Linked DNA regions of Homo sapiens. The protein of the gene in region 1 interacts with the protein of each later gene in a pairwise test. Each region holds a gene or a part of one and is shown in the gene's direction. Other genes may lie near its edges.

What was found. The genes of interacting proteins can lie anywhere in the genome.
Region 2: the proteins of LGALS4 (region 1) and RFX6 interact in binary tests that used the Homo sapiens proteins (3 or more experiments, as listed by UniProt).
Region 3: the proteins of LGALS4 (region 1) and SLC28A3 interact in binary tests that used the Homo sapiens proteins (3 or more experiments, as listed by UniProt).

Annotation. Positions count from the first base shown.
Region 1 is NC_000019.10:38,802,145-38,810,797, reverse strand, and holds part of LGALS4 (galectin-4), read left to right. Parts: intron 1-1,849; coding exon 1,850-2,054; intron 2,055-4,202; coding exon 4,203-4,337; intron 4,338-6,902; coding exon 6,903-6,929; intron 6,930-7,017; coding exon 7,018-7,056; intron 7,057-7,246; coding exon 7,247-7,276; intron 7,277-8,393; coding exon 8,394-8,482; intron 8,483-8,640; coding exon 8,641-8,653. UniProt on the Homo sapiens protein: Galectin that binds lactose and a related range of sugars. May be involved in the assembly of adherens junctions.
Region 2 is NC_000006.12:116,928,509-116,933,581, forward strand, and holds the end of RFX6 (DNA-binding protein RFX6), read left to right. Parts: intron 1-250; coding exon 251-463; intron 464-2,822; coding exon 2,823-2,998; 3' UTR 2,999-3,653; downstream 3,654-5,073. UniProt on the Homo sapiens protein: Transcription factor required to direct islet cell differentiation during endocrine pancreas development. Specifically required for the differentiation of 4 of the 5 islet cell types and for the production of insulin.
Region 3 is NC_000009.12:84,329,839-84,338,491, reverse strand, and holds part of SLC28A3 (solute carrier family 28 member 3), read left to right. Parts: intron 1-8,653. UniProt on the Homo sapiens protein: Sodium-dependent, pyrimidine- and purine-selective. Involved in the homeostasis of endogenous nucleosides.

The DNA of each region.
Region 1 (8,653 bases):
TCCCCTTAAATAGGGTGGCCTGGCCGGGCATGGTGGCTTACGCCTGTAATCCCAGCACTTTGGGTGGCTAAGCCAGGCAGATCACCTGAGGTCAGGAGCTCGAGACTAGCCTGGCCAAAATGGCAAAATCGCATCTGGCTGGGCGTGGTGGCTCACGTCTGTAATCCCAGCACTTTGGGAGGCAGAGACGGGCGGATCACGAGGTCAGGAGATCGAGACCATCCTGGCTAACACAGTGAAACCCCGTCTCTACTAAAAATACAAAAAATTAGCTGGGCATGGTGGCGGGTGCCTGTAGTCCCAGCTACTCGGGAGGCTGAGGCAGGAGAATGGCGTGAAACCAGGAGGCGGAGCTTGCAGTGAGCCAAGATTGCGCCACTGCACTCCAGCCTGGGCGAAAGAGCGAGACTCCATCTCAAAAAAAAAAAAAAAAAAAAAAAAAAGGCGAAATCTCATCTCTGCTGAAAATACAAAATTAGCCAGGCATGGTGACAGGTGCCTGTAATCCCAGCTACTTGAGAGCCTGATGTGGGAGAATCACTTGAATCCTGAAGGCAGAGTTTGCAGTGAGCTGAGATCGCATCACTGCACTCCAGCCTAGGTGACAAAGGGAGACTGTCTCAAAAAAATTAAAAAGGTGGCCAGAGAAGGCCTGCCTGGGAAGGGAACATATCAGCAAAGAACAGAAGGAACGGAGAGAGGGATCCCCAGGGACAGCTGAGGGAAGGGCCTTCCAGGCAGAGGGAACAGCCAGTGCAAAGGCCCTGAGACAGGCCTGTCCTGGGGAGTAATTTCAAGGATGCTGGTGTGCCCAGGGGTGCGGAATATGATGCGTCATGGGTGTACACAGGGACCCTCTGGCTGCATGAGGGAAATGATCTTCAGGGCCAGGAGGGGAGCAGGGAGACCCAAAGTGCATAGGACAGGGCCTGGCCCGTGGCAGACTTGTAACAGTCATAACTGGAAGTTGGGAAGAGGGTGGAGGAGGTGGTCTAAGAAGGCAAGGTGGGCTGGGTACAGCAACTCACACCTGTAATCCCAGCACTCTGAGAGGCCGAGGTGGTAGGATTGCTTGAGCCCGGGAGTTTGAGACCAGCCTCGGCAACATAGTGAGACCCCATCTCTACAAAAAAAAAAAAAAAAAAAAAAAAAAGCCAGGCATAGTGGCATGCACCTGTAGTCCCAGCTACTAGGGAGGCTGAGGCAGGAGAATCAGTTGACCCAGGAGGTTGAGGCTGCAGTGAGCCACCATCGTGGCCACTGTACTCCAGCCTGGGGGACAGGGTGAGAACACAAGACCCTGTCTCAAGAAAAAAAATGTCAGGCACGGTGTCTCACACCTGTAATCCCAGCACTTTGGGAAGCCGAGGCAGGTGGATCACCTGAGGTCAGGAGTTTGAGATCAGCCTGGCCAACATGGTGAAACCCTGTCTCTACTAAAAATACAAAAATTAGCCGGACGTGGTGGTGCACGCCTGTAATCCCAGCTACTTGGGAGGCTGAGGCAGGAGAATCACTGGAATCCAGGAGGCGGAGGTTGCAGTGAGCTGAGATCGCGGCACTCCAACTCCAGCCTGGGCAACAGAGCAAGACTCCATCTCAAAAAAAAAAAAAAAAAAAAAAAGAAGGAAAGGCTGTGAGCGAAGGTGTGGTGGTGGGAATCTGCCCCCCTCAGAACTCAGGTCCTCTCCACGCTGTGGCCCACAGTGCCAAGGTTGCCCCTCAGAGCTGGTGCTGAGGTCCGGGCCAGGGAGGCCGAGGACAGGGCGGCAGGGAGAGGGCTTCCTGGAGGAGGCCCCCAGGCCCCGGGAGGTGGCACCAGGGGAATGAGCCCTTTGTGTCCCGCCAGGTTCTTCGTGAACTTTGTGGTTGGGCAGGATCCGGGCTCAGACGTCGCCTTCCACTTCAATCCGCGGTTTGACGGCTGGGACAAGGTGGTCTTCAACACGTTGCAGGGCGGGAAGTGGGGCAGCGAGGAGAGGAAGAGGAGCATGCCCTTCAAAAAGGGTGCCGCCTTTGAGCTGGTCTTCATAGTCCTGGCTGAGCACTACAAGGTCTGCATGCTTTCTCTCTTGTTTCCCAAGCTGGAGTGCAGTGGCGCCATCTTGGCTGCTTCCTTCCTTCCCGCCTTCCTTCCTTTTCTTTCTTTCTTTCTTTTTTTTTTTTTTTTTTTTGAGATGGAGTTTCACTCTGTTGCCCAGGCTGGAGTGCAGTGGCATGATCTCAGCTTACTGCAACCTCTGCCTGCTGGGTTCAAGAGCTTCTCCTGCCTCAGCCTCCCGAGTAGCTGGGATTATAGGCGCGTGCCACCACGCTCAGCTAATTTCTGTATTTTGAGTAGAGATGGGGTTTCACCATGTTGCCCAGGCTGGCCTCGAACTCCCGACCTCAGGTGTTCTGCCCTCCTTGGCCTCCCAAAGTGCTGGAATTACAGGCGTGAGCCACCACACCCAGCCCCTTCCTTCTTTTTCCTCTTTTTCCTTCCTCTTTCTCTGTTCTCTCCTCTTTCCTCCCCTCCTTCCTTCCCCCTTCCCTCCTCTCTTCTTCCTTCTCTCTCCTTCCCTCCTTCATTTATTTCCTTTTTCCATCCCCACTTTTTATGTCAACTTCTTTCTTTTCTTTTCCTTCTTTCCTGCCTATTTTATTTTATTTTATTATTTATTTATTTATTTATTTTTATTTATTGATCATTCTTGGGTGTTTCTCAGAGAGGGGGATGTGGCAGGGTCATAGGATAATAGTGGAGAGAAGGTCAGCAGATAAACACGTGAACAAAGGTCTCTGGTTTTCCTAGGCAGAGGGCCCTGCGGCCTTCCACAGTGTTTGTGTCCCTGGGTACTTGAGATTAGGGAGTGGTGATGACTCTTAAGGAGCATGCTGCCTTCAAGCCTCTGTTTAACAAAGCACATCCTGCACAGCCCTTAATCCATTTAACCCTGAGTTGACACACCACATGTCTCAGGGAACACAGGGTAAGGTTACAGATTAACAGCAACTCAAGGCAGAAGAATTTTTCTTAGTACAGAACAAAATGGAGTCTTCTATGTCTACTTCTTTCTACACAGACACAGTAACAATCTGATCTCTCTTTCTTTTCCCCACATTTCCCCCTTTTCTTTTCGACAAAACCGCCATCGTCATCATGGCCCATTCTTGATGGTCGCTGTCTCTTCGGAGCTGTTGGGTACACTTCCCAGACAGGGCGGCCTGGCAGAGGCGCTCCTCACTTCCCAGACGGGGCGGCCGGGCAGAGGCGCTCCTCACCTCCCAGACGAAGGGCGGCCGTTTCCTGCCTATTTTTAAAAATCCTCTTTTAGCGCTTTTCCTTAGTCCCATTACCCTACTGCTGAGAGTCTTGTAATACATTTCATGTGTATTTCCTCCTACCACTTTGTGTTTTTTGCAAAACGTGTACTTTTTGTTTTCCTCTTGAGACTGGGTCTCGCTCTGTTGCCCAGGCTGGAGTGCAGTGATGCAAACAGCTCACTACAGCCTCAACCTCCCCGGGCTCAGGTGATCCTCTCACATTAGCCTCCGGAGTAGCTGGGACTCTAGGTGCACACCACCACGCCCGGCTAATTTTTGTATATTTTTGTAAAGACGGGGTCTTGCTATGTTTCTCAAGCTGGTCTCGAACTCTTGATCTCAAATGATCCCCCACCTTGGCTTCCTAAAGTGCTGGGATTACAGGCATGAGCCACTGCGCCCGGCCAGTGAGCTGATTTTTGACCTTAGCTTGACCTCTGAGCTGTGGACTCCAAGGTTCCTGATGCTGAGGCTGTCCCAGCTCATCCCCAAGACTATCGACTCCCAATGAAAAAGATCCCTGATCCTTGCTTTTTTTTTTTTTTGAGACAGAGTCTTGCTCTGTCACCCAAGCTGGAGTGCAGCAGCGTGATCTCCACTCACTGCAACCTCCACCTCCCGGGTTCAGGCGATTCTCCTGCCTCAGCCTCCTGAGTATCTGGGATTACAGGAGCCCGCCACCATGCCTGGCTAATTTTTGTATTTTTAGTAGAGATGGGGTTTCACTATGTTGGCCAGACTGGTCTCACACTCCTGATCTCAAATGATCCACCCCCCTCAGCCTCCCAAAGTGCTGGGATTAGAGGCGTGAGCCAGGGTGCCCTGCCCTTGCTTCCTGTTTGTACCTTCCCAGGATCATGGGTGCTGACTCCTGACCTCCCATCTCTGCCCTCCAGGTGGTGGTAAATGGAAATCCCTTCTATGAGTACGGGCACCGGCTTCCCCTACAGATGGTCACCCACCTGCAAGTGGATGGGGATCTGCAACTTCAATCAATCAACTTCATCGGAGGCCAGCCCCTCCGGCCCCAGGTGTGAGGGGTCCCATCCCTTCTTGCGTCCTTTCTTTCTAAATTCAGTTCCACATTCATTTTTTTTCTTTTTTTCTTTTTTTCTTTTTTTTTTGAGACGGAGTCTCACTCTGTCGCCCAGGTTGGAGTGCAGTGGCGCGATCTTGGCTCACTGCAAGCTCCGCCTCCCAGGTTCACGCCATTCTCCTGCCTCAGCCTCCCAAATAGCTGGGACTACAGGAGCCTGCCACCACGCCCGGCTAATTTTTTTGTATTTTTAGTAGAGACAGGGTTTCACTGTGTTAGCCAAGATGGTCTCGATCTCCTTACCTCATGATCCACCCACCTCGACTTCCCAAAGTGCTGGGATTACAGGCGTGAGCCACCGCAGTTGGTCTATTTTTTCTTTTTGAGATGGAGTCTTGCTCTGTCTCCCAGGCTGGAGTACAGTGGTGTGATTCTGGCTCACTGCAACCTCTGCCTCCCAGTTTTAAGCAATTCTCCTGCCTCAGCCTCCCAAGTAGCTGGGATTACAGGCACCCACCATCACATCTGGCTAATTTTTGTATTTTTAGTAGAGACGGGGTTTCACCATGTTGGCCAGGCTGGTCTGGAACTCCTGGCCTCAAGTGATCTGCTGGCTACAGTCTCCCAGAGTGCTGGGATTACAGGTGTGAGCCATGGTGCCCAGCGCATTCCACATTCATTTATTTCCCAAGCATCTCCCTCTGCTGAGTTATGCCAAGAGCCCAGTGATGATCAAGGGATCCCACTGGGAAGACAGACCCATCACTGCAAGGGATAAAGGCCGGGATGGGGAGGCCCTGGCTGAAGGGTTGCAGTTGGGTTTGGGCCCAGACAGAGGGATCAGGGCCAGGACAGGAGGGTGGGTGGAGGCAGGCAGAGGGGTCAGGCCCAGGGCTGGAGACAGGAATGACTGAGATATCTCTGGGCCCTGACCTCACTGGGCTCACAGACATGGCATCAGAGAGTGACAGCCCAGAAATGGTCAGGTCTGTGATAGGGAGGGCACAGGCAGAGGGGCAGGGGCTGGGATATGGAGTATACAGGAGGTTTGGGAGCCTACAGGAAGGGCTTGACTAGTCATGGGTCAGGAAGGAAGTGCTTCCTGGAGTAGGAGGAAGTGTGTAAGGTGAGTCAGAAAGTGAGGATAAGGAAAGGCAAAGAACACACGATAGTGAATGAATTCCCTAGAGGTTGCTTAACACAATCATTAAAAATAAATAACATACAATTAAATTGAGTTTATCAATATTATTATTATTATTATTATTATTATTATTATTATTATTATTTTTGAGGCAGGGTCTGGCTCTGTCACCCAGGCTGGAGTGTGGTGGTGCAATCACAGCCTACTGTATTCTTGACTTCCTGGGTTCAAGTGATCCTCCCACCTCAGTCTCCTGAGTAGCTGGGACTACAGGCACGCACCACCAGCCCCAGCTAGTTTTTAAATTTTTTGTAAAGACAGAGGGGAGGAATTTTCCTATGTTGTCCAGGCTGGTCTTGAACTCCTGACCTCAGGTGATCCACCCACCTCAGCCTCCCAAAGTCCTGAGATTACAGGCGTGAGCCACAGCCCCCGGCTTATAAAGCTACGTTTATTTGTTTGTTTGTTTTTTGTTTTTTGTTTTTTTTTTAGATGGAGTCTTGCTCTGTGGCCCAGGTTGGAGTGCAGTGGCATGATCTCAGCTCACTGCACCCTCTGCCTCCCAGGTTTAAGGAATTCTTCCTCAGCCTCCCAAGTAGCTGTGATTACAGGCACCTGCCACCACGCCCGGCTATATAAAGCTACTTTTAAAAGGCCTTCAGAATAGCTGGCTGAGAATAGAAGTCAAGGCAGAATGGAGTTAATTACAAGGAGGAGAAAAGAGAAGGTAACAGAGAGAAAGAGAGAGAGTAAAAGTTAAAGGTGTTAGACTTGGGAGGGTGAGGCGAGCGGATCACCTGAGGTCGGGAGTTTGAGACCAGCCTGACCAACATGGAGAAACCCCATCTCTATTAAAAATACAAAATTAGCTGGGCGTGGTGGCGCATGCTTGTAATCCCAGCTACACCGGAGGCTGAGGCAGGAGAATCACTTGAACCCAGGAGGCAGAGGTTGAGGTGAGCAGAGATCGTGCCACTGCACGGCACCCTGGGCAACAAGAGCGAAATTCCATCTCAAATAAATAAATAAAAGTGTTTGGCAGAAGGAAGCCCCTGCGCTGAGGTGTGGCCAAGACAGAGAGAGAGGCAGAGACACAGGGACAGAGGCAGAAACTGAGATCAAGATCAGCGAGTGAGGGCCCCGGGACAGCAGGAAGACAGCAAGGGGAAGGGCACAGAGAACAAAATGGACCAAGCATTGTCCTAAAGCTTTGGGGTGACTCACTGGGCATCAGCGATCCCAGAACATGGGGTGCCCCTCTCCGTGAATCTGTGATCGGGGTGCCACCCTTTGATGCCAGAGTTCTCTGGCATAGTGGTGGTGGTGGTGGGCCACCCCAGGGCAGGCACTCTCGACATCTTTCAGTCGCAAATCTGGGGACCCTCTCATAACCGCTTTCTCTTTCTGTGCCCACAGGGACCCCCGATGATGCCACCTTACCCTGTAAGTACTTGCTGATAGGTGAGGGTCTTCCTCCCTAGTGGGGTCCCTCAGCCCCTCTCACCCTTCCTGCCTTCTGTCCATCGTTCAGGGTCCCGGACATTGCCATCAACAGCTGAACAGCCTGCCCGTGAGTGGGAGGGCTGGGAGGGCCCCGGGTGAGGAGTGGGAATGGTGAGAATTGGGGTAGGGGGAGCTAAGAGGGGTTGCAGCCCAAGGTGTACTAACCCAGCACCTAGAGAAACGCCGGAGTCTAATGGGTGTGTCATAGATATCTGTCGACTCTTGGAGAATAATATCGCTTCTTCCTCACTTCACAGACCATGGAAGGACCCCCAACCTTCAACCCGGTATGGCTTGGGGAAACAGAGATGGATGGTGGGGAGGGGGCACGGATCTCCAGGGAATCTGAGACAGCCAGAAAGGGAGTGGGCTGAGGGTTTTGGGGTGGGAGGTAGGGGAAGGGTAGATAGAGTTCGTGGTCAGGTTTAGGGAGCAGAAGGAATTGGGGATGTTTTCCAGGAGGAGTGGGACCTCTCAGAAAATTTGTTCTTGGGCTGGACATGGTGGCTCACGCCTGTAATCCCAGCACTTTGGGATGCCAAGGCGGACAGATCACGAGGTCAGGAGATCGATCGAGACCATCCTGGCCAGCATAGTGAAACTCTGTCTCTACTAAAAATACAAAAATTAGCTGGGCATGGTGGCGCGCGCCTGTAATCCCAGCTACTCAGGAAGCTGAGGCAGGAGAATCGCTTGAACCAGGGAGTCGGAGGTTGCAGTGAGCCGGGATCGTGCCACAGTACTCCAACCTGGTGACAGAACGAGACTCCATCTCAAAAAAAAAAAAAAAAAAAAAAAAAGAAAAAGAAAAGAAAAAGAAAATTTATTCTTGGCCAGACACGGTGGCTCATGCCTATAATCCCAGCCCTTTGGGAGGCCAAGGCAGGTGGATCACTTGAGGTCAAGAGTTCCAGATCAGCCTGGTCAACATGATGAATCCCCGTCTCTACTAAAATGACAAAAGTTAGCCAGGTGTGGTGGCGCACACCTGTAATCCCAGCTACTAGGAAGGCTGAGGCAGCAGAATTGCTTGAACCTAGGAGGCAGAGGTTGCAGTGAGCTGAGATTATGCCACTACACTCCAGCCTGGGCGTCAGAGGGAGACTCTGCCTAAAAAAAAAAACAAAATTTGTTCCTTTGTTCCTGCAAGGCTGGGCGTGGTGGCTCACGCCTGTAATCCCAGCACTTCGGGAGGCTGAGATGGGAGGATTGCTTGAGCCCAGCAGTTTGAGGCTGCAGTGAGGCTTGATCATGCCACTGCACTCCAGCCTGGGTGACAGAGTAAGACCCCATCTCTTATAAGAAAAAAAGACAGGAAAGAAAAGAAAAGAAAAAGAAAATTTCTTCCCACATCTGGCTCTGCTAAGCTGAGAGAGAATGGGACCCCCCGTTCTCTTCCCACAGCCTGTGCCATATTTCGGGAGGCTGCAAGGAGGGCTCACAGCTCGAAGAACCATCATCATCAAGGGCTATGTGCCTCCCACAGGCAAGAGGTATAACGTAAACTAGGTGGGAACCCCCAGCCCCCTCCTCCCTCAGACCCAACAATCTAGACCCTCTGTCCCCTCCTCCTTTAGGGATTCAGAGGTCCAGCCCACTGGCCTCTTCCCACTGGACTCCATCTGACTCCCCCATCCCTCTCTGTCCCCAGCTTTGCTATCAAC
Region 2 (5,073 bases), on another chromosome or scaffold:
TTATGCTATAATTATTGTATTAAATTATGTATGATGCTACAATTCTTATGTGTTAAAAAACACAAAAAACAGCACAGTAAACCTTATCCATGTACAAGCACAAATCCAGTTCTGTAGCATGTATAGATACACATGTAATACTTACAGTTTGATATCTTTAGGACGTCACCTCATTACTTTGTCACTTTTTTCCTTCCTGAAAGTTCTTTGTAGTAAGTTAACAGCAAATTCTCAACATTTTCTGTTACAGGATACTATGGAAGCAACATAAACTACCCAGAGTCTCACAGGCTCGGATCAATGGTGAATCAGCACGTTTCTGTCATCAGCAGCATTCGTTCACTGCCCCCCTACAGTGACATCCACGATCCACTTAACATTTTAGATGACAGTGGTAGAAAACAGACCAGCTCGTTTTACACAGACACATCATCTCCAGTTGCATGTCGAACTCCAGTCCTAGGTAAATTATTTTAGCAGTTCTTGAAAACATTTTAAGAAGTTGTTAACCTCAGGTATGCAACATTACTTGAGGGAGATATGCTGAGGTGAACTGAGCAAGCATGTTTCCACGGTTGATTTATTACCTTGGATCTAAAGTTATATTTTTTGTATCTGACTACACAGTTAGTAACAGTTTTTCATTTCTTATTCTGTATATCTCTATTATGCAACCTACTGCTAGATCTGTTACTTTTTACAAAAAAAATAGCTGGTATCTATTAAGTATGCAAAAGATTAATATGACCTGTCAAATGCAGTCTAAAACTGTAAGTTTTAAAAGGGCAGTAATAATATCCTTTTCTCACTCTTGATTAGTGTTGGACCCAGTTGTAGTGCCAAGAGATATCTTTAGGCCTCATGATCTCCATCAGTATCCAAAAATCACTCCAAGATTAAAAAAAACTGGTGTCCTGTGATGGGTGCTACTAGCATTTTCTCATTCTTATGTAAAATGTGATTCAACACCTCTGTAGAAAATGTTGCCATTTTTATTGCTCTCTAACATATCATGTAAGTAAAAATAAGAAAAACGTGTGCTTGCCGTGAAGCCTCCTGGAATCTTCTTCCAACCAGGTTACATTTCTTAATCCTCATCTATGAAGAAATTCTGCAATAATAATTAGTATGTTATTAGTAATAACATAGATTTAGTCACTATAGATTTAGTTTCTAAAAATACTAATAAGATTTCACAGGGCAAGTATATATTCACTAAGTATCAAAGCAGAGTGTTAATATTTATATGAGATGGTTAAAGTCTTCCAATGAGATTGATTTCAGACTAGCATAAGTAGAGGGCATTGACACGCAACCAGAGCATAAGGGAAAATGAAATCAATTTCATCTCTCCTCACTCAGTGTACCTTCCCAATAATTCAATAGGAAGTACTCCTTCTCTTCCTGTCACTGTCACACATGCTCCCTGAGCAGAATCTAGCAGCTCATCTTCTGCTATCTGCAAATGGTCATTGCTTCTAGGTTACTCTAATGAAGCAGAAAATTCCACTTCAGGAAGTTTTCTCACCATGAGACTAAAATGTACTGTGTTGCTATTGTTACTATTAGTTCTGTTTACCTGAAGAGATAGTGGAAGCTTTGACGAAACATAGGTTAAGAGTAGGGTGGAGTCTAAGCTTTAGTTTATCAGAGCTGGCTTACAAGTAGATTACAAAGTGTGCTGCAGGGTAAAATGAGGGGATAGAATAAGTGGATAAGTAGTGCAAGGAGAATTGAGTTCAACTATTTCTTAAGTATAAAGCCTGGTTCTTAGACAGAGAGCACGTCATGTCAGCAATAAGAAGGCAGCAACCATATATGAGAGAAATACAGGGCTAGTGAGCCAGTTAATGAATTTTATTGAGAACCGACTAGGAGCCAGACCCCATTCTAGATGTGAGGATATGGTGGTGATCAGGCCATAGTTCTTGCCTGTAAGAAGTTTACATTCTAGTAGAGGGACAGTAAGGCAATAAATACATGAGCAAATGCATTAAAAAGATAATGTCAAGTACTCTGAACCTGATTAAATAGAGTAAAATGACAGACAGTAAAGGAGGAGCTGCTTTCGGTAGGACAGCTGAGAAAGGAATCCTGAGGCAGAAACATTTGAGTTGAAAGCTGAGTGATGAGAAGGAGGCAAAGATGTGAAGATCTGAGGGAGGAGTTCCAGGCAGAAGAAACAGTGAATGCAGAACCGCTGAAATCAGAATAAATTTGAAAAAATCAATGGGCAGAGAGCAGGCCAGTGTGTCTTAAGCATGTTGAATGAAGGAGAGAGTAGAGCAAAATAAATAAAAAATCAGGGGCCCATCTACATAGGGTAAGATGCTTGGTTCATGTTCCAAGGGTATCGGAAGCCACTATGGCATTTGAGACGAGTGAAAGTTTGATCTACTCTTCAGCAATATCATTCTGGTTGCTCTCGGGAAGGTGAGTGGGTGAAACAAAGGTGGAGATCATGGGACCAGTCAGGAGGCTGCTGTGTTGGTCCAGGAGAGAAAAGATGGTGGTTTGAACTACAACCGTGAAAGTGCAGATGGAAAGAGGAGGTTGATTGGGGGATATATTTTGGCGGTAGCACTTAAGTTGAAATGGAGTTTTCTTTGTGAAATATGTAGAGGAAATAATTTCTGGGAGACTAGCAAGTGGGAACAAATGGAAGAAAAAATGATTGCTCTGGTAAACCATACAGACTCAAATTTAGAATAGGTATGTGTGCTAAGTGCAAAAATAAATACAGGGTATTAAAATGAGTGGCATTTGCAGAGAAAAGAAAATGTCAATCAATTTTCAATTGCTGATTATATTTTCCCTTACAGCTTCCAGTTTGCAAACCCCAATTCCTTCTTCCTCATCCCAATGTATGTATGGAACTTCCAACCAGTATCCAGCTCAAGAAACCCTGGACTCCCATGGAACAAGCAGTAGAGAAATGGTGTCCTCTTTACCACCTATCAACACTGTGTTCATGGGAACAGCAGCTGGAGGCACTTAAACCACCAATGTGGGAGGGGGTGCTAAAACTTTAAAAAAAATCTCTACTGTGCAAATATCATTATTCACTCAGACTTCCATAAGAGTAAATAAAAATGAATATGCAGTGGCTGACATTGTTTTAAAGTCACTGGTACTATGGACAACTCCATAGTGAATGGAGATACTTGCAGAGCTTGTCATGCACACTAAGAGTTTAAAATGTGAGCTCATTATTAATCATAGTTTCAAAATTATCAAATAAAACCAGTGAAGATCTGAAGATGCAAACATTTCAACTATGAAGATTTACATTTCACTTTCTAATTTATTAAACATCTGTGTGCCTTTTTATCTTTGGTTTCTTTTAAAAAGTATATTTAATGCCTTTACAATACCTTTAATTTATTAGGATCTCAGAATCATTGTTTACTATCCCTTATTTGACAAAAAGTCAAATGTGTATGTTCTACCTCCAACGGAAATGTTTACAAGGTCAAGACTTAATTCAATTCAGACAAGACCAAAGTTGCTTGACTTCAATTCCTGTGCATTAGTGTGATGATTTCTGTCACATAGCAGCATTCCGATTCTATGTAACTGAATGGAGATGATAAGTGCTTTCCCCTCTTTATTTAAAAAAGATTAAAAGGAATAAAAGAAATAATGTATGGAAATATTTTTAAAGGCTTGGTGCTCTTGGGGCTGGTACTGTTTCTGAAGAATGCTGGGGATTTACTCTTTAATCTCAGCTCCTTTGGAAATGAGATTAAGGAGTCAAGTAGTGTGGTTAAACACTATAATTTAAAAACATTTGCATATCATATCCATGCCTATACATATAAAGAAATTGTGAATTGTAGACTATTTGAACCTTTTCAGATTTAGAAGCAGTCTTTTACCAAGTACTTTCTTATACATTGAAAGTCAATGAGTGTTCAGGGATTAGCTAGATGCAAAGCCTAATTCAGAAGTGAAGGAATCATTACATATAAATTAATACAATTTGATAACACTATCTATCTTTCTACCTCTGTTTCTTTTTCTTTTCCATATGTCTTCACTGAAAGGTCTGTTGTAAAGTTCCTGGCCTGTGGTAGGAGACTTCCATAAACTTTACAGGCTTCTCCTATAGTCTTATGACAAGCCTCATATTATTTGTATTAAGGATTAGGTTACACTATAAACCCCAGGTACATCGTAAAAGGATCTATAAGACCCAGATACTCATTATACATCATGATGGAATTTGGTAAAACAAACTGTGGAATTTTTTTCAGCAAGCAATAAACAATTATCTGTGGACCTGTCAGAGTATTGCTACCATTTGCTTAGTTGTATGTTCAACAGTATGCAGTTTATAATTTAATTAATTGAACAGAAAAAGATTATAGCAGTAACAAATCACAAAGAATAGCAAATGTTCTATTCTTTGATCTAGAAATATTGTAGAAATACAGAGGAGAAAATTAATAAAGACTTGGAATTAAGTAGTAAACAAAACAGCTTTAAAAAGCGTTTGGCCATAAGTCTTGAAAGTTAACCAAAATTTTAATGTATACTAATTAAATACATGTTCAGCCTCTATGTGTCAGACACTTCATTATATAACAACATGGAAGATACAAAGATGGGAAAGACACTGTCATACCTTATACATTTTTGTGTAACAATGTAGGGGTAATGTGATAGAAAATAGAAGCTCCTAGAGGATTTTTGAGTAGAAAAGCAACGTGGGGAAAGTGATGTTTAGGGAATATCTAACACTAGTTGGAGAGAGGGGCTGAATTGGATAGCGGAGAAATTAGTCTGAAAAGGGGGCTATTTGGAGGTTGTTTCTCTCATCTAGATGTCCGGTGGATAAACACAGAGAATACTTGGAAGCAGAGGGAATGAGATCAGGGAGAGAGAAAGAAGCATCATTTCAAAAGAATGTATTTAAGGATTTTCTCTAACCCTGTTTGCAAAGGATTTCCCTACCCTATTTGTAAAGCATTGCAGTGTAAATAATTTGCCATATATTGATGCCCTTTTTGTAAACGAGAGAAAATGACCCAGAGCAGGGAGAAGCTTACAAGACATGTGAACAGCATCTCT
Region 3 (8,653 bases), on another chromosome or scaffold:
ACTCATTGGATTGATTGAAATTTGAATTTCTACATTTCAAAATCAAAATAGTGAAGACAATTTGTCTTTCAAGAGAATCAGAGGCCTCATAACTCCTGCCAAGTTAATAAGTATGAGTCTTACCTTGTTTGACATTCAGCTCTCCTGCTACATTATCTTCTTTAAGGAAAATTAATTGATTGTAAAATATGTGCTACTTCACTCGCATTATTAAATATGCATTAACATGCCACCAGGACTTCCAAATAAGTTAGGATGCTTACTTATTCACCTTGTCCTAGTCTGTGAATTGTGCTAGAAATTCATTTTTCTTCTTCAAATATTAAGAGTGCCCTTGGTAGACCAAAGTTCTAATTTTACTAAGTAGAACTACTTTCACAGCTTGAAATGCTGATATGGGTTCCCAAAAGGCCTGTGCCTGTAAGACCTGGTGCAGGTGCAATGGTTATGCATATCTATGGATTACCTGGACAGGCTCTCATCTGGACTGTTCCTCAAAGAAGGGAGCACCAATTGCTGTTTTCATGGAGCTAGTACTCCAGTGGGAAAGGTTAAACAGGAGCACAAAGTCAGTGATATGGGTTATAAGAGAGAAATGATCTCACCTCCAAGAAAGGATTTCACAGCTAGAGCACACTTCATACATGAGAGTGGATTTTGTAACCAACGATAGAAATGAATGTTAGGGTTTTTTTTTTCTAATCTCATTTTATTGTACCTCTAAACGTTTTCTATGAATAAGGAACTTATTTCTCATATGGCTGAGGATGGAAATGACTTCATTCAACAGTAGTTGCAAATAAGACGTTTGCTATTTATGAAGGAAGTTCGGATTGGCATTTAAAGTATTGCGTGTATGTGGAATATCTAAGGATTTCTTATTTTATTTTAAAATATTTTTTAAACCTTAAAACAGTCAGCAAACTGGCTCTTGATTTTGTGCAAGATGTTCCCATCAGTTCAGGAAAAATAACTGCCTGAAAGGACAAAGTACACACACACACGTGTGCAAACACTCACACCCACATACGCATACACACACGCGCGCGCACACACACAGGCTAGCATCCCCAGGCCTCAAGGTTCTAAGCAGGGCATCTCAAACCCAGCAGAGTATCATACCAACAACACCCACACCTAAAAACAGTGACTGGGTTATTTCTATTTATTCAGTAGAATCATCAACTGCCCCCTAGATATGGCCGCCTCTAAGAAGGGATACCAACTCAAGAAAGAATAATATGCTCTTCTTGCCCTCAAGGAGAAGGACAGGCAGAAATAAGCATGCAATTACAATATAATTGATGTTAAGGAAAATGGCGGAGGTTTGCACCAAGTGCATTGTATTCTTATATTTATTATTTTTTATATTTTGTCTTGCTATCTTACCAGGGCTGGTCTGAAACCCTGGCCTCAAGCAATCCTCCTGCTTTGGCCTTCCAAAGTGCTGGGATTACAGTCATGAGCCACAACACCCAGCCAGCACCAAGTGCATTGTAAATAATATATAGCTGGAGCTGAGCTGACTGAGGAGTCTGTGACAGCATCACCAAAGGAGGGAGAATTTGATTAGGGCTTTAAGGATGGTCAGGTCACAGTAGGAGGTGGGGTGGGCAGAGCACTGCAAGCAGAGAGAACTATCTGTACAGACTCAGAACCCTAAAGGAGAAGAGCACATGAGCCTGGGATGGAGGAAGGGAACACGGTATAGGGAAAGGGGGCAGGCTGGCATCAGGTCAGGTGGCCTCTGCGTGTGCTAAGGCATTTTAGAAGGAATCGCTCAGAATTTACGCAGTCAAATTGTGATTTTTTTTTTGAGACAGGGTCTCACTCTGTCACCCATGCTGGAGTGCTATGGTATGATCTCAGCTCACTGCAGCCTCAACCTCCCAGGCTCAAGCAATCCTCCCACCTCAGCCTCCTGAGTAGCTAGGACTACAGACATGCGCCACCACACTTGGCTAGTCTTTGTTTTGTTTTGTGTTTTAGAGATGAAGTCTCACCCTGTCGCCCAGACTGGAGTGCAGTGGCATGATCTTGGCTCACTGCAACCTCCACCTCCTGGGTTCAAGCAATTCTCCTGTCTCAGCCTCCTGAGTAGCTGAGTTTACAGGCATATGCCACCACACCTGGCTACTTTTTTTGTATTTTTAGTAGAGACAGGGTTTCACAACGTTGGTCAGGCTGGTCTCAAACTCCTGACCTCAAATGATCCGCCTGCCTCAGCCTCCCAAAGTGCTGGGATTACAGGCGTGAGCCACCGTGCCCGACCTAATTCTTGTATTTTTTTGTAGAAATCGGGTTTCACCATGTTGCCCAGGCTGATCTCAAACTCCTGAGCTCAAGTGATCTGCCTGCTTCAGCCTTCCAAAGTGCTGGGATTACAGGTGTGAGCCAACTGCACCAGGCTGATTTTTTTTTTTTTAATATTACTTTGGTGGCCCCATTGAAAGTGCTTGGAAAAGGAGAGGGATTTGTGTGTGGCTGGGACATCCGTTGGGAAGTTACTGTCATAATCCAAACCAGGCTAAAGGCAGTGGATGCAGACACTGGGACGGAGGTACTAATACTGATGAGGTGACCCCTCCACAATGAAATTCAGGAGTAAAGATGAGGGCCTAAATGCTGCTCTGGCTCTGAAGATTTCTGTTTTCTCCTCTGTAAAAGAGCATAATAATGGTACCTATCTTGGGATTGTTGAAATAATTAAATAAGCTAATATTATATATGTATAATGGACATTTTATACACACACACACACACACACACACACACACACGTATATACATACTTGTGAAAACAGTGCCTGGCACATAGTATGAACATAACAATAGCAGCTTTTGATGCTGAGCAGCTTAAGGAAAGTGTGGAGTCAATGTTTCCAGCTTGGGATGTCAACTTGGAAGTGATTCCCTTTGTTTATTTATTGCTGTTGTTTTAAATAGAGACAGGGCTTCACTCTGTCACCCACGCTGAAGTGCAGTGGCACAATCATAGCTTATTGCAGCCTCAAACTCCTGAGCCCAGGCAATCCTTTGACCTCAGCCTCCTGAGTAGCTGGGACTACAGGCACGTGCTACCACAACTGGCTAAGTTTTTTTATTTTTTATATTTGTAGAGACAGGGTCTTGCTATGTTGCCCAGGCTGGCCTCTAGTGATCCTCCCATCTCTTCCTGGGTTTCCCAAAGTGCTGAGATTACAGGTGTGAGCCACCTCACCCAGCCTCGGGCAAGGCTTTATTTAGGTAGAAAATCTAGGAATAAAGTTAGAGCAAAAAAGAGAGTGAGTTCTCTTTGAGGCCTGTTGGTTGAAATTAAGTTGACTCCAGGCATCTTCATGAAGGGGTAGATGAAGTAGGAAGCTTGTAGCATACGTTCACCTGGAGCTCAGAAGAGGACACACATTTGGGAGCTGTTAGCATAGATATGAGCGCGGATAAGACCACTGTGAGGGAAGCCTGGGAAACAGTAGCGCTTAAGGAGTGGGGAAGTTAGAGATGTCAGAGAATGAAGCAGAGGGCCACAGGGAGAGAAAGAGCAGCAGAACCAGGAGAGGGGCGATCTGGAGAAGTCAAGGGAAAGTAGAACCACAAGTCAACAGAAAAGACTCCGAAAGGACAGAGGAGTCTATAGAGTGAGGCCACGGGTTCACTTGACTTGCCAGCTAGGAGGTTACTGGTGACGCTAGGGTTGGGGAAGGAGGAGAAGTTTGTGTTATGAGCGGGAGTTAGGCTAGGAAAAATGGTAGCAGAATGAACGCTCTTCTGGTGCAGTGGTGGTGCTAGGGAGGGGCGGGGAAGGGGAAGACCTAGGGCAGGCAAAGGCAGTTGTGGGGAGGTGTTTTTATGTTAAAAAAAAAAAAATTCGTTGTGAAATACAACATACAGAAAAATACATAAAAACAAATATACAACTTATAAGGCGAACTGTCACTCAGGTCAAGAAACAGGATATTGCCATCCCTCAGGGTCCAGCCCTACACATTTCATCACTGCTGCCTCCCTTCCCTGGGGTAAACCCAACCAGGGGTGACTACTGACCCAAATGTGGGGCAATTACTTCCTTGCTTTTCTTTATACCTTAACTTCTAATTATGAATCCCCAAGCAGTACCTTTGCCTGGTTTTGAACTTTATATAATAGAAACACAAAATGTATTCTTTGCTTATATTGAAACTTTTTTTTTGTTTTTTTGAGACAGAGTCTCGCTCTGTTGCCCAGGCTAGAGTGCAGTGGCGTGATCTTGGCTCACTGCAACCTCTGCCTCCCCAGTTCAAGCGATTCTCCTGCTTCAGCCTCCTGAGTAGCTGGGAATACAGGCATGAGCCACCAGGCCCGGCTTGTATTTTTAGTAGAGACGGGGTTTCACCCTGTTGGCCAGGCTGGTCTCAAACTCCTGACCTCACGTGATCCACCCGCCTTGGCCTCCCAAAGTGTTGGGATTACAGGCGTGAGCCACCATGCCTGGCCATCAGCTCTCTAAGATTCACATGGTGTTGCATGTAACTGCAGCTCATCCCATTTCATAATGCACAGGATTCTGCCATGTAAATATTCCACAACTTATACATTTTGCTGCTAGTGGACATTTGCGTTATTAAGTTTGGGGTTTTTGGAGCTTCTACAAACATTGCAGCTAGGGACACTGTTATCCATGCCAGGGGGAGTATCTGTAATAAATTTACTCTGGGGTTGTACTTAGGAGTGGAATTGCTAGGCCACTGGAATAAACATATACTTTCAACTTTGCTGATAGTGTCAGATTGGTTTCCTAAGTGATTTTACCAATTTGCATGCCTATCAGCAGAGTGAGTATTCCCATTTCTCATCATTATTCAGCTGACCTTTTAATGTCAACCATTCTGGTGGGTGTGTAGCAGTATGTCATTGAGTTTAATTAAAATTTTCCTGTTATTGGTTGTTAGATGCCAACTTTTTAAATATTTGCTCAACTTTCTTGCCCATTTTCTCTACTGGATTTTTTCCATTTTTATTTGAAAGAGTTCCTTAGATGTTCTGGTTACAAGCCTATGAAAGGAAATTAAATTTTGGGACCCCAAACTCATTTAACCAAAGGGAAAAGTCAAGCTGGGAACTGGGTCACGCATACCTATCTCCCCCTTTTGGTTCCTAAATAAGATGGCTACAAGATGAAAAGCTACACGCTTCCCCCATGTTTTGCCCACAAGGAAATTCCTGGTGAGCTATAAAAACTTCACCATGGCAATGTAATTGATAACTTATCTTTACAGGTGCAGTCACCCCAGATACAAATGCATATCTGATTGTTCCCCTACCCCATTTCGTCTGTATTATCTTATGTAAAATGCAGATTCTCCACATTTTTCCTTTGCCCCCTTTGTTTACATGAAAACTGTGTGCTTCTCACTATCCCGCCCTTTCTCCTTTAAATTTGGAGCCCTCAAAATCATCTCTGGAGAAAGGGATAGACCTGTCTCCCAGGCAGTTCCTTAACTTTGGCAAATAAATCTGCTAAAATGATTGAGACTTGTCTCATCATTTTCCTCGATTGACAAGCCCTTTGTCAGTTATGATTTGTAAATACCTTCTACCACTGTGAAGCCATCTTTTACTCTAATGGAATATTCTGAGGAACAAAAGTTAATTATATTGGTCCCATTTAGGAAACATTGGGACAAAAGTTAATTATATATGGTCCCATTTAGGAAACGTTGCTTCTCTTTCCTGTATCTTGTCTAAAATATCTTTTCCAACCTGCAAAATCATGAAGATTTTTTTTTCGAACAAGTGTAACTCTTTATTAAGATAAAATTGTTTTTATTAAAGAAATAGATAAAAATGATTAAGTACAATCAAATGGCTCCAAAAGCCTTACAATGAAAGCAACAGTCCTGCCAGTTGTTCTTTCCAGAGGCAAGCACTTCTCATTCTCTCAGTTTTTCCTTCTGGTAGTTACCTTCATGGGTTTTTCCAATTATTATTTTTTTAGTTTTTCAAGTGAATGCATATATTAATACATGAAATTTTTAAAAGCCTCTTCAGTTTATAATGCATCCTACCAGTCCCCTACCCTATCCCTCCTAATTCTCCAGAGCAATGACTTTTAACTCTTTTAGCAATGTCCTCTATTTTTTTCTCACATAACTACTTAGGCATTTCTTGATTGTTTTATACATTATATAGTGATTTCTTGATATGACAGATGAGGATTTAGCTCTTACACCATCACTGTCTTCACTTTTCCTCCCATATTGTCCCAAAGTAGTTACCAGATTTAGAGGCTAAGCAGTCATCACTTCATTATGACAATGTCCATATTGCTCATTGTTGAGAACAACAGGGTATTATGCTCTAAAGTCATTAGGATATTTTCTAAAAGCTTATACTTTCATTCACATTGAGGATCTCTATTCCCCCTGAAATTGAGTTTAATGTATAGTGTAAGGTAGGAGTCAAGTTTGCTTTCCACACGAACATCCACTTATTTTGGCATTATTATTTTTTAAATTTACTTTTAACACCACTCAGTGATCATCAACATTGCTTTAAAAAAGAACCTTTTCCCCACTCCACAGATATTTTGCCACGTGTCCATATTTGGGAGAGGCTTTTTGGAACAGGGCAACTGAAAGATTTTTCCAAACTCAGAGGAGATGGGGAAGAATCCAAAGAGATGGAAGTTAACAGCAACAGAGGTCAAAACAGTTCAGAATTTCTAAGAGGAAAATGCAGGAATGTTTTTTAACACATTTATTAAAAGGCATCTCTTGGAATCCCAACTCAAGTTTCCTCCTCCCTGTGAATAAGCAATCAATCTTACCACAGCTGCTCTCAGAGGCACAGAACCCAAGCTTGCTCTGAAGTTAGTTGGGTGGAACTCACTTACGAAAGTCTTGGGAGAGGACTAGGCTGGGGAAATGGGCCTCACTCTGCACAAACACACAGGAAAGGCTGAGTTACTCCATGAGTAAGCCAGTCAAGCAGGTTTGGAGAGTTTGTTAAATGGAGTTTACAATTTGGGAGATCATGTAAGTGTAAGTCCATCAGGGATCCAAACCTGCTGGAGTACAGGTGTAGACTTCTTGTCAAGCACGTACTTTGAATACAAAAGTTCTAAGGTAGGAAGTAACTATGTTATGTAGGGAAGAAGAATATTGTTTCTCCTTAACCCACTAGCCTGGGAAGTCAATATGAATCACATTGAGTACTCTTTCACATTGCTCAAGAGGCGCTCGGCTGGAGCTTCCTATATTCAATTAAAACACACACACACAAAAACACATGACAATAATTCGCTTTTGGGAAGGAGGTTAAAAAAGAAAAGTATATTCTCTACTCTTTCCTCAAGTTTGCATGATCACACCTAGACTTATTTTTAGGGGAAAACAGTGTAGGGGATTGTAAACCAAGTCACTTCCATGGCATCTCAGAGAGAGAGGGTATAAGGATTTAGTTTTTCCTCATTCAAACACTCCTGAAGTGATTCCCCTTGAAATTGAGGAGCCACTTACTCATCAGTGTTGAGGCACTGGAAAGAAAATAGAAAATAATTAATAATGTAGATAAAGATACATTTTTGCTGAGGGCTAAAGCAGAACTTTCTAATATGTAACACTAGCCAGATATGTAATTTAAAACTTTTCTGCAAGCCCATTAAAAATGCAAAATAAAGTAGGTATAACTCTTCACCTTATTTTAACTATATTTTATGGAACCTCATATATTGAAATTAATGAAATAATTTATATTTGTTTCATACCAAGTCTTTGAACATCCAGTGCATATTTTAAACATATAGTACATGTCAACTCTAATGCTACATTTTTATCAGAAATACTTGATCTGTTTTTAGATTTCATAAAATGTATATTTGTAAAAAGTAGATTCATAATCAAGTTGTTCTAAACATGCCTGTTTTTCAATACATGGATCTAATGTTCAGTTTTTAATTTAAATTTAAATTAGTTAAAATTAAATTCAGGTCCTTAGTCATATTAGTCACATTTCAAGCACTCAGTAACCACTTGCCACTGATGGTTATTCTATTGGATCACCCACGTAAGCATGTGTTTTTGGTTTTAGAGTTCATACACACACACAGATCTGGTTATCCTTCCTCTTTAAGGACCTGACCACCAGATTTATGCCAAAAAATTAAAGTAACAACTTTACATTTATTTCTGTAATATCAGTAGTAATATCTCCTCTTTCATTCATGAATTTAGTTATTTGTCTTCTCTCTTTTTTTTCCTTGGTTTCTTTTTTCCTTGACATTTCCTTGTTGGGAGGTTTATGGTTAGCAATTCAATCTCTTCACTTGCTATTAGTTTTTTTGAGCTTTTTTTTTCCCTTAAGTAAGTTAAGAACCAACTTTTGGTTTCATTGATTCTCTCTTTTGTTTTTCTAGTCTATATTTCATTTGTCTCCACGATAATCTTCATTATTTCTTTCTTTCTGCTAACTTTGGATTTAGTTTGTTGTTCTTTTTCTAGTTCATTACAGTAGAAGATTGGATTATTGATTTGAGATCTTACTTCTTGATAATATAAGCAATTACAATTATAAAATTCCCTGTAAGCACTGCTTTAGCGATATTCATAAATTTTCGTATATTTTCATTTTTGTTATTTATTTATTTATTTGTGATGAGGGCCATGCTATGTTGCCTAGGC